Regions from separate parts of the Homo sapiens genome. Here region 1 is reported to be linked to region 2. Evidence: microRNA targets listed by miRTarBase, many of them from high-throughput screens and not tested one by one. Region 2 holds a microRNA gene; the other region holds the end of a gene's coding sequence.
Evidence for each region. The annotated mature microRNA hsa-miR-4722-5p reads GGCAGGAGGGCUGUGCCAGGUUG and lies in region 2 at 1,676-1,698, shown strand. An mRNA with a match to its seed (bases 2 to 7 or 8) in the 3' UTR can be bound and repressed. Matches are read on the target gene's strand: a 7mer-m8 pairs with bases 2 to 8, a 7mer-A1 pairs with bases 2 to 7 and ends in A, and an 8mer does both.

Region 1: miRTarBase lists NOP14 as a target of hsa-miR-4722-5p. Seed matches in the 3' UTR shown: 7mer-m8 at 681-687.

The regions. Positions count from the first base shown.
Region 1 is chr4:2,935,996-2,939,110 of GRCh38, reverse strand. It overlaps NOP14 (NOP14 nucleolar protein), which reads left to right. Exons shown (of 18, transcript NM_001291978.2): 18 at 181-1,175. The coding sequence ends at 280. NOP14-AS1 (NOP14 antisense RNA 1) reads right to left here. Exons shown (of 4, transcript NR_015453.2): 1 at 969-3,115; 2 at 319-418. Among named protein-coding and RNA genes, the nearest start is that of NOP14-AS1, 2.0 kb to the right of the region's middle. RefSeq lists enhancers at 1,317-1,736, 2,207-2,446, 2,249-3,115.
Region 2 is chr16:88,714,766-88,718,012 of GRCh38, reverse strand. MIR4722 (microRNA 4722) reads left to right here and starts at 1,676; the gene lies at 1,676-1,735. It overlaps CTU2 (cytosolic thiouridylase subunit 2), which reads right to left. Exons shown (of 15, transcript NM_001012759.3): 13 at 3,087-3,153; 14 at 2,907-2,965; 15 at 2,617-2,831. The coding sequence ends at 2,762. PIEZO1 (piezo type mechanosensitive ion channel component 1 (Er blood group)) reads left to right here. Exons shown (of 51, transcript NM_001142864.4): 45 at 802-990; 46 at 1,115-1,207; 47 at 1,282-1,454; 48 at 1,530-1,652; 49 at 1,736-1,815; 50 at 1,894-2,080; 51 at 2,159-2,675. The coding sequence ends at 2,408.

The sequences.
Region 1 (3,115 bases), not on the chromosome of region 2:
GGCACCTGGCATCCCACAGCCTTGGCTCTGGCTGGGGGTTGGAGCCAGGCAGGTTCACTTCCCCCTGTTTGAACTGAACGTGGCCACGGTGGCTAATGTGGTTCTGATGTGGGAGAGAGAGGGCAAGATGCTCTCCAAGAACTAATCCAAAAATGGGCATTTGCCTTTTGTTTCTTTTAGGGATGCGGAAAGAAAGCGGAAAGTAAAGCAGCTTTTTAACAGCCTGGCTACACAGGAAGGCGAATGGAAGGCTCTGAAGAGGAAAAAGTTCAAAAAATAAATTACATTTTATAAATAAGGCAAGGAACTGGACATTACCTCACATCTGCAATTCCAACCCTCTGGGAGGCCAAGGCAGGAAGATTGCTTCAGCCCAGGAGTTCGAGACCAGCCTGGGCAACACAGGAAGACCCCGTCTCTACCAAAAAAACATAAAAATTAGCCAAGTGTGGTGGCACGCACCTGTAGTCCCAACTACTCGGGAGGCTGAAGCAGGAGGACTGCTTGAGCTGAGTCCAAGGTTACAGTGAGCCGTGATTGAGCCACTGCACTCCAGCCTCGGCCACAGTGCAAGACTGTGTCGCTTAAAAAAAAATTTTTTTTTTTGAGACGGAGTTTTGCTCTTGTTGCCCAGGCTGGAGTGCAATGGCACAACCTCCACCTCCTGGGTTCAAGCGATTCTCCTGCCTCAGCCTCCCGAGTAGCTGGGATTACAGACATGTGCCACCACGCCCAGCTAATTTTGTATTTTTAGTAGAGACGGGGTTTCTCCATGTTGGTCAGGCTGGTCTCGAATTCCCGACCTCAGGTAATCCACCTGCCTTGGCCCCCCAATTATAGGTGTGAGCCACAGCACCCAGCCAAAAAAGTAATTTTTTTTAGAGTAATAATGCTATAATGTTGGTGTGATTCCAACCTCCAGCTCCCCCCACCCGCTGCCTGCGGTTTTGTTTCTGTTAAAACGTCACCTGATGAAATAGAATGAATCCTGAAATGCACCTCTGGGATCGGGAATGGTCTGTGTGTTATCAGCTGCGACTGGTTCACTGCGTCTGGACAAGCCTCATGGGGACTGGGGATTCTGGCCAGTGTAATTTCTGTCAACCACGGACGTTTGCCTTCATGTGTAGAATTTACTGTTGTTATGCAAATTATATTTTCAATTATAAATGAAACAAGTTTGCAGATATTTTAGAAATCAGAGAAGGGAAACATCACCCACAGTCCCTCTGCTGGAACAGCCACAGTTGGCCTTGTCCTACTTACGTCCTTCAGTGGATGCTTCTGGGTGCTGGGGTTCTCCATTCAGGACACTGCACTCTCGGAGGTGGGAGGAGACTGGGTTGCGTCTGTGCCGACCTGGGATGCAGTTTCAGGTCAGAATCAGAAGATGTGCAAGTTACGCATGACACAGCTTTTTAAAGTGCTTTTCCCCTGCACTAATCAAGAGGGAGGTCAGCCCTCAGGTGTGCTGGACCCGGGAGGGACTGTGAGCTGTAAGAAGTAACGAGCCCCTTGAACTTCACAAGCTGGCCAGGGAGCCATATCCCGAATGCCACTGCCACTTCCTCGTGGTGCAAGGCTTGTTGGGACCTGCCACCTTGCTGAGGGAGGTGCTGAAGTAGGTGGTTTCCCTGTTCCAATGCGGTATGCGGTCTTGCAGGCCGAGGCATTCCCCAGGGGATGACGGAGCCCCCGCTGGGCTACAAGCCAGGGCAAACACTGAACTTGTGTCCTTAGCCGGCATCCCAGGAAAGAAGGCCGGGGTCAAGTTCACACCTCATGAGATCACAGTGACCAGCCCTGCCCAGGCTGCCCTGGTACGTGCCTGAAGCATCGCGGAGGTCACATCTAGCCACGGTGACCGTGGTGAGATGTAAGGATTAACCAGACTACGACTGGGGAGGTGAGGAAGGTGACAAGGACCCAGTTCCAGCTTCTAACGGGGTGTGGGATCTTTGAGCAAGGAAGAAGATGCTAGGGAGAATGAGTCTGGCTTTGTTCTTGTTGGGAGGTGTTCAAGCCATGGCTGGACCAGAGCATGAGCCATCCTCAGTGTGAGAGGCAGTTACTGCCGCGGTTGGGCTGCCTGGTAGGCCTGGAGCTCAAAATGAGTCAGTCTCTCTCTGGAAAGCGCAAGACAGAGACAGCGCTGGTGGCAGCTGGGCTGAAGCCAGCAGCTTGGAGATGAGGCTCAGGCCCTGACGGGGGAAATCTTACCCAGCCTCCCCAGATGGCTCAGAGACAGGTCTGGCAGGTGCACGGATCCACAAATCTAGAAGAGTCTGGGGTTGTCACATCCACCAACTAGGCTGGCTGTCTATATACACTTTGTCACTGTGTAGGCCCAGGATTTCACCCATCTACAAATTTTCTCTGCCACACGGCTACTGCCACTTTAATTCACCAAGCCAAGCCTTTGCACTCAGGACCCTGGCCCAACCCTCTTTGGCCAAGCAAAGAGGAAACGAGAACAGGACAGAAAAAAAAGTGGGACCGGACCAGGCACCTGGCTGTCCATTGAGGCCTTGCTATGCGATCCAGGACGGAAGGTGCCGGCAGCAAGCTCATACACTCTAGCTGCGTGTCATGTCATTGAAGAGGGCGCGTGATCCAGCTGGAAGGGTGGATAAAAGTGTAACTGCCCAGTGGGTTCACCTTCCCTGTTACCTAGACAGCCAATTTATCAAGAAAGGGCATTTGCAACAGAGAAAAGGTAATTCACGCAGAGCTAGCTGTGTGGGAGACTGGAGTTTTATTATTACTCGGTCTCCCTGAGCATCTGGGGTTTGGAGTTTTTAAAGATAAGCTGGTGGGTGGGGGGCAGCCAGTGAGTCAGAAGTACCCATTGGTCAGGTCAGAGATGAAATCACAGGGAGTCGAAGCTGTTTTCGCACTGAGTCAGTTCCTGGGTGCCACAACATCAGATGAGCCTGGGTGGTGCCAGGTGACCCACCAAGTGCTGATCTTAGGCTTTACGATGGTGATGTTATCGCCAGGAGCAGTTTGGGGAGGGTCAGAATCCTGTAGCCTCCCGCTGCGTGACTCTTCAACCGTAGTTTCTAATCTTGTGGCTAATCTGTTGGTCCCACAAAAGCAGGCTAATCCCCAGGAA
Region 2 (3,247 bases):
CTCCCAGGTTCAAGCGATTCTCCCACCTCAGCCTCCCGAGTAGCTGGGACTACAGGTGTGCACCACCAGGCCTGGCTAGTCTTTTGTATTTTTGGCCAGGTTCGTCTCAAACTCCTGACCTCAAAGTGCTGGGATGACAAGTGTGAGCCGCCACACCCAGCAGTTGGGTTGTTTTTTATTAGAGTTTTTTCTGTTTTTCTGCAGATACATTGGCTAGAAATGACTGAATTGGAAGAATTCTCTGTATTCTCTGGTTGCTAGAACCTTATCAATTAAAATTTGCAGAAAATTTCTCCAATTCTATGGACTGTCTCTTAAATTTTCTTGGTGTCTTTGGAAGCACAAAGTATTTATTTTGGTAATATCTGGTTTACTTTGTTTCCTTCGCCAAATCCAGGTTCATGAAGATTTGCCCGTTTTCTTCTAAAAGTTCTATAGTTTTAGCTCTGAAGTTTCGCTCTTTGATCCACTTTGAGGTAAATTTTGGCACATGGTATGAGGCAGGAGTTGCGTTTCATTCTCCTGCCTGGGGCGGTGCCTGCACCGTGTTGAAAAAGGTTGTCCGTTCCCACTGAACGGTCACAGCTCCCTTGTCTAAGATCAACGACCCCTGAACATGAGGGTTCCAACTGGACTCTTAGTTCTACTCCACTGGCCTGTGTCTGCCCACCATTACTACCGCTGTGCCATACTGAGGTCAGGCTGGGGCTTTTCTGGGCTGCTGGGTGAGCTGGAGAATGCGGTTGTGTGACCCGCAGGAAGGGCAGAGCTGAGCGTATGACCTGTGTCGTTCCCCTCCAGAAATACCCGCAGCCCAAAGGGCAGAAGAAGAAGAAGATCGTCAAGTACGGCATGGGTGGCCTCATCATCCTCTTCCTCATCGCCATCATCTGGTTCCCACTGCTCTTCATGTCGCTGGTGCGCTCCGTGGTTGGGGTTGTCAACCAGCCCATCGATGTCACCGTCACCCTGAAGCTGGGCGGCTATGAGGTGAGCATGTGTGGGTCCGCCTGTCCATTCCCATCCCCTGGGGGTTCTGGCCAAGGTGGTGCACCACCCCCAGCCGCTCCTCCACGCTCATCTTCGTGGCCCCGTGTCCCCGTGCCTGCCCCAGCCGCTGTTCACCATGAGCGCCCAGCAGCCGTCCATCATCCCCTTCACGGCCCAGGCCTATGAGGAGCTGTCCCGGCAGTTTGACCCCCAGCCGGTAAGTGGCCTCTGCCCTGTGAAAGCTGGTGTGGGGAGGCGGCTGCAGTCACTGAGGGTGTCACTTGTACCCAGCTGGCCATGCAGTTCATCAGCCAGTACAGCCCTGAGGACATCGTCACGGCGCAGATTGAGGGCAGCTCCGGGGCGCTGTGGCGCATCAGTCCCCCCAGCCGTGCCCAGATGAAGCGGGAGCTCTACAACGGCACGGCCGACATCACCCTGCGCTTCACCTGGAACTTCCAGAGGTTCGTCCTGGACTTGGGGCAGTGCCTGGGTGGGTGGACCCACTACAGTGGGTCACGCTGTGTTCCCACCCCCAGGGACCTGGCGAAGGGAGGCACTGTGGAGTATGCCAACGAGAAGCACATGCTGGCCCTGGCCCCCAACAGCACTGCACGGCGGCAGCTGGCCAGCCTGCTCGAGGGCACCTCGGACCAGTCTGTGTGAGTGAAGGGCCCGGGTGGTGGGCAGGAGGGCTGTGCCAGGTTGGCTGGGCCAGGCCTGACCTGCCAGCACCTCCCTGCAGGGTCATCCCTAATCTCTTCCCCAAGTACATCCGTGCCCCCAACGGGCCCGAAGCCAACCCTGTGAAGCAGCTGCAGCCCAGTGAGTATGGGCGTGGGGGTTGGGGGAGGCTAGAGAGGGGTGACCTGCGGCCTCAACGATCTTCTCCCTCCATCCCAGATGAGGAGGCCGACTACCTCGGCGTGCGTATCCAGCTGCGGAGGGAGCAGGGTGCGGGGGCCACCGGCTTCCTCGAATGGTGGGTCATCGAGCTGCAGGAGTGCCGGACCGACTGCAACCTGCTGCCCATGGTCATTTTCAGTGACAAGGTCAGCCCACCGAGCCTCGGCTTCCTGGCTGGCTACGGGTGAGTGAGTGGCTGGGGGGGCACCCCGCAGCTCGGGGGGCTCCGGGCGGCCCCAGGACTCACCAGCTTCCCCCGCAGCATCATGGGGCTGTACGTGTCCATCGTGCTGGTCATCGGCAAGTTCGTGCGCGGATTCTTCAGCGAGATCTCGCACTCCATTATGTTCGAGGAGCTGCCGTGCGTGGACCGCATCCTCAAGCTCTGCCAGGACATCTTCCTGGTGCGGGAGACTCGGGAGCTGGAGCTGGAGGAGGAGTTGTACGCCAAGCTCATCTTCCTCTACCGCTCACCGGAGACCATGATCAAGTGGACTCGTGAGAAGGAGTAGGAGCTGCTGCTGGCGCCCGAGAGGGAAGGAGCCGGCCTGCTGGGCAGCGTGGCCACAAGGGGCGGCACTCCTCAGGCCGGGGGAGCCACTGCCCCGTCCAAGGCCGCCAGCTGTGATGCATCCTCCCGGCCTGCCTGAGCCCTGATGCTGCTGTCAGAGAAGGACACTGCGTCCCCACGGCCTGCGTGGCGCTGCCGTCCCCCACGTGTACTGTAGAGTTTTTTTTTTAATTAAAAAATGTTTTATTTATACAAATGGACAATCAGAGGCCAGTCCCCCGTCCTTGCCTTCCGGCTCCAGTGTGGTGTACCAGGTGGCCACTGCCTGCTGTCCCGGCAAGCACGTCCTCACGCTCAGCTCTGGCCCGCCTCGTCGTCACTGTCCTCAATCAGACAGTCCCGGATCTCCTGCAAGCCCCAGGCCCTAGAGAGAAAGCTGCAGTGGGCACCAGCCCCGAGGCCCCTTACCCACGCGCCACGGCAGTGTGGGCCCCAGTACCTCTGTGTGCGGAGCTGGGCCTCAGCCAGGATGTACGGCGGCAGGGGGTCCAGTGAGGGCTGCAACAGAGGCCGGTGTCGAGGGGCCAAGAAACCTGCCAGCACCCCCTCAAGCCACCCACGAGGTGACGGCCTTCCCGCGTCCCCAAGCCCGGCCCAGGACAGGTGGGCACGTACTCACCAAGTCCTTCATGTTCACGCGGCAGCTGTAGCACAGCTGCTCCTCAATGCAGGCTTGGGGGTCCTCCCTGCGGGAGCAGAGCTGGCTGTGTGCCCACCTTGGCACCTCAATGCCGTGCAGTGTGGGGTAAGGACAGGTCCCCCTCCCGCCCCATGCAGCTG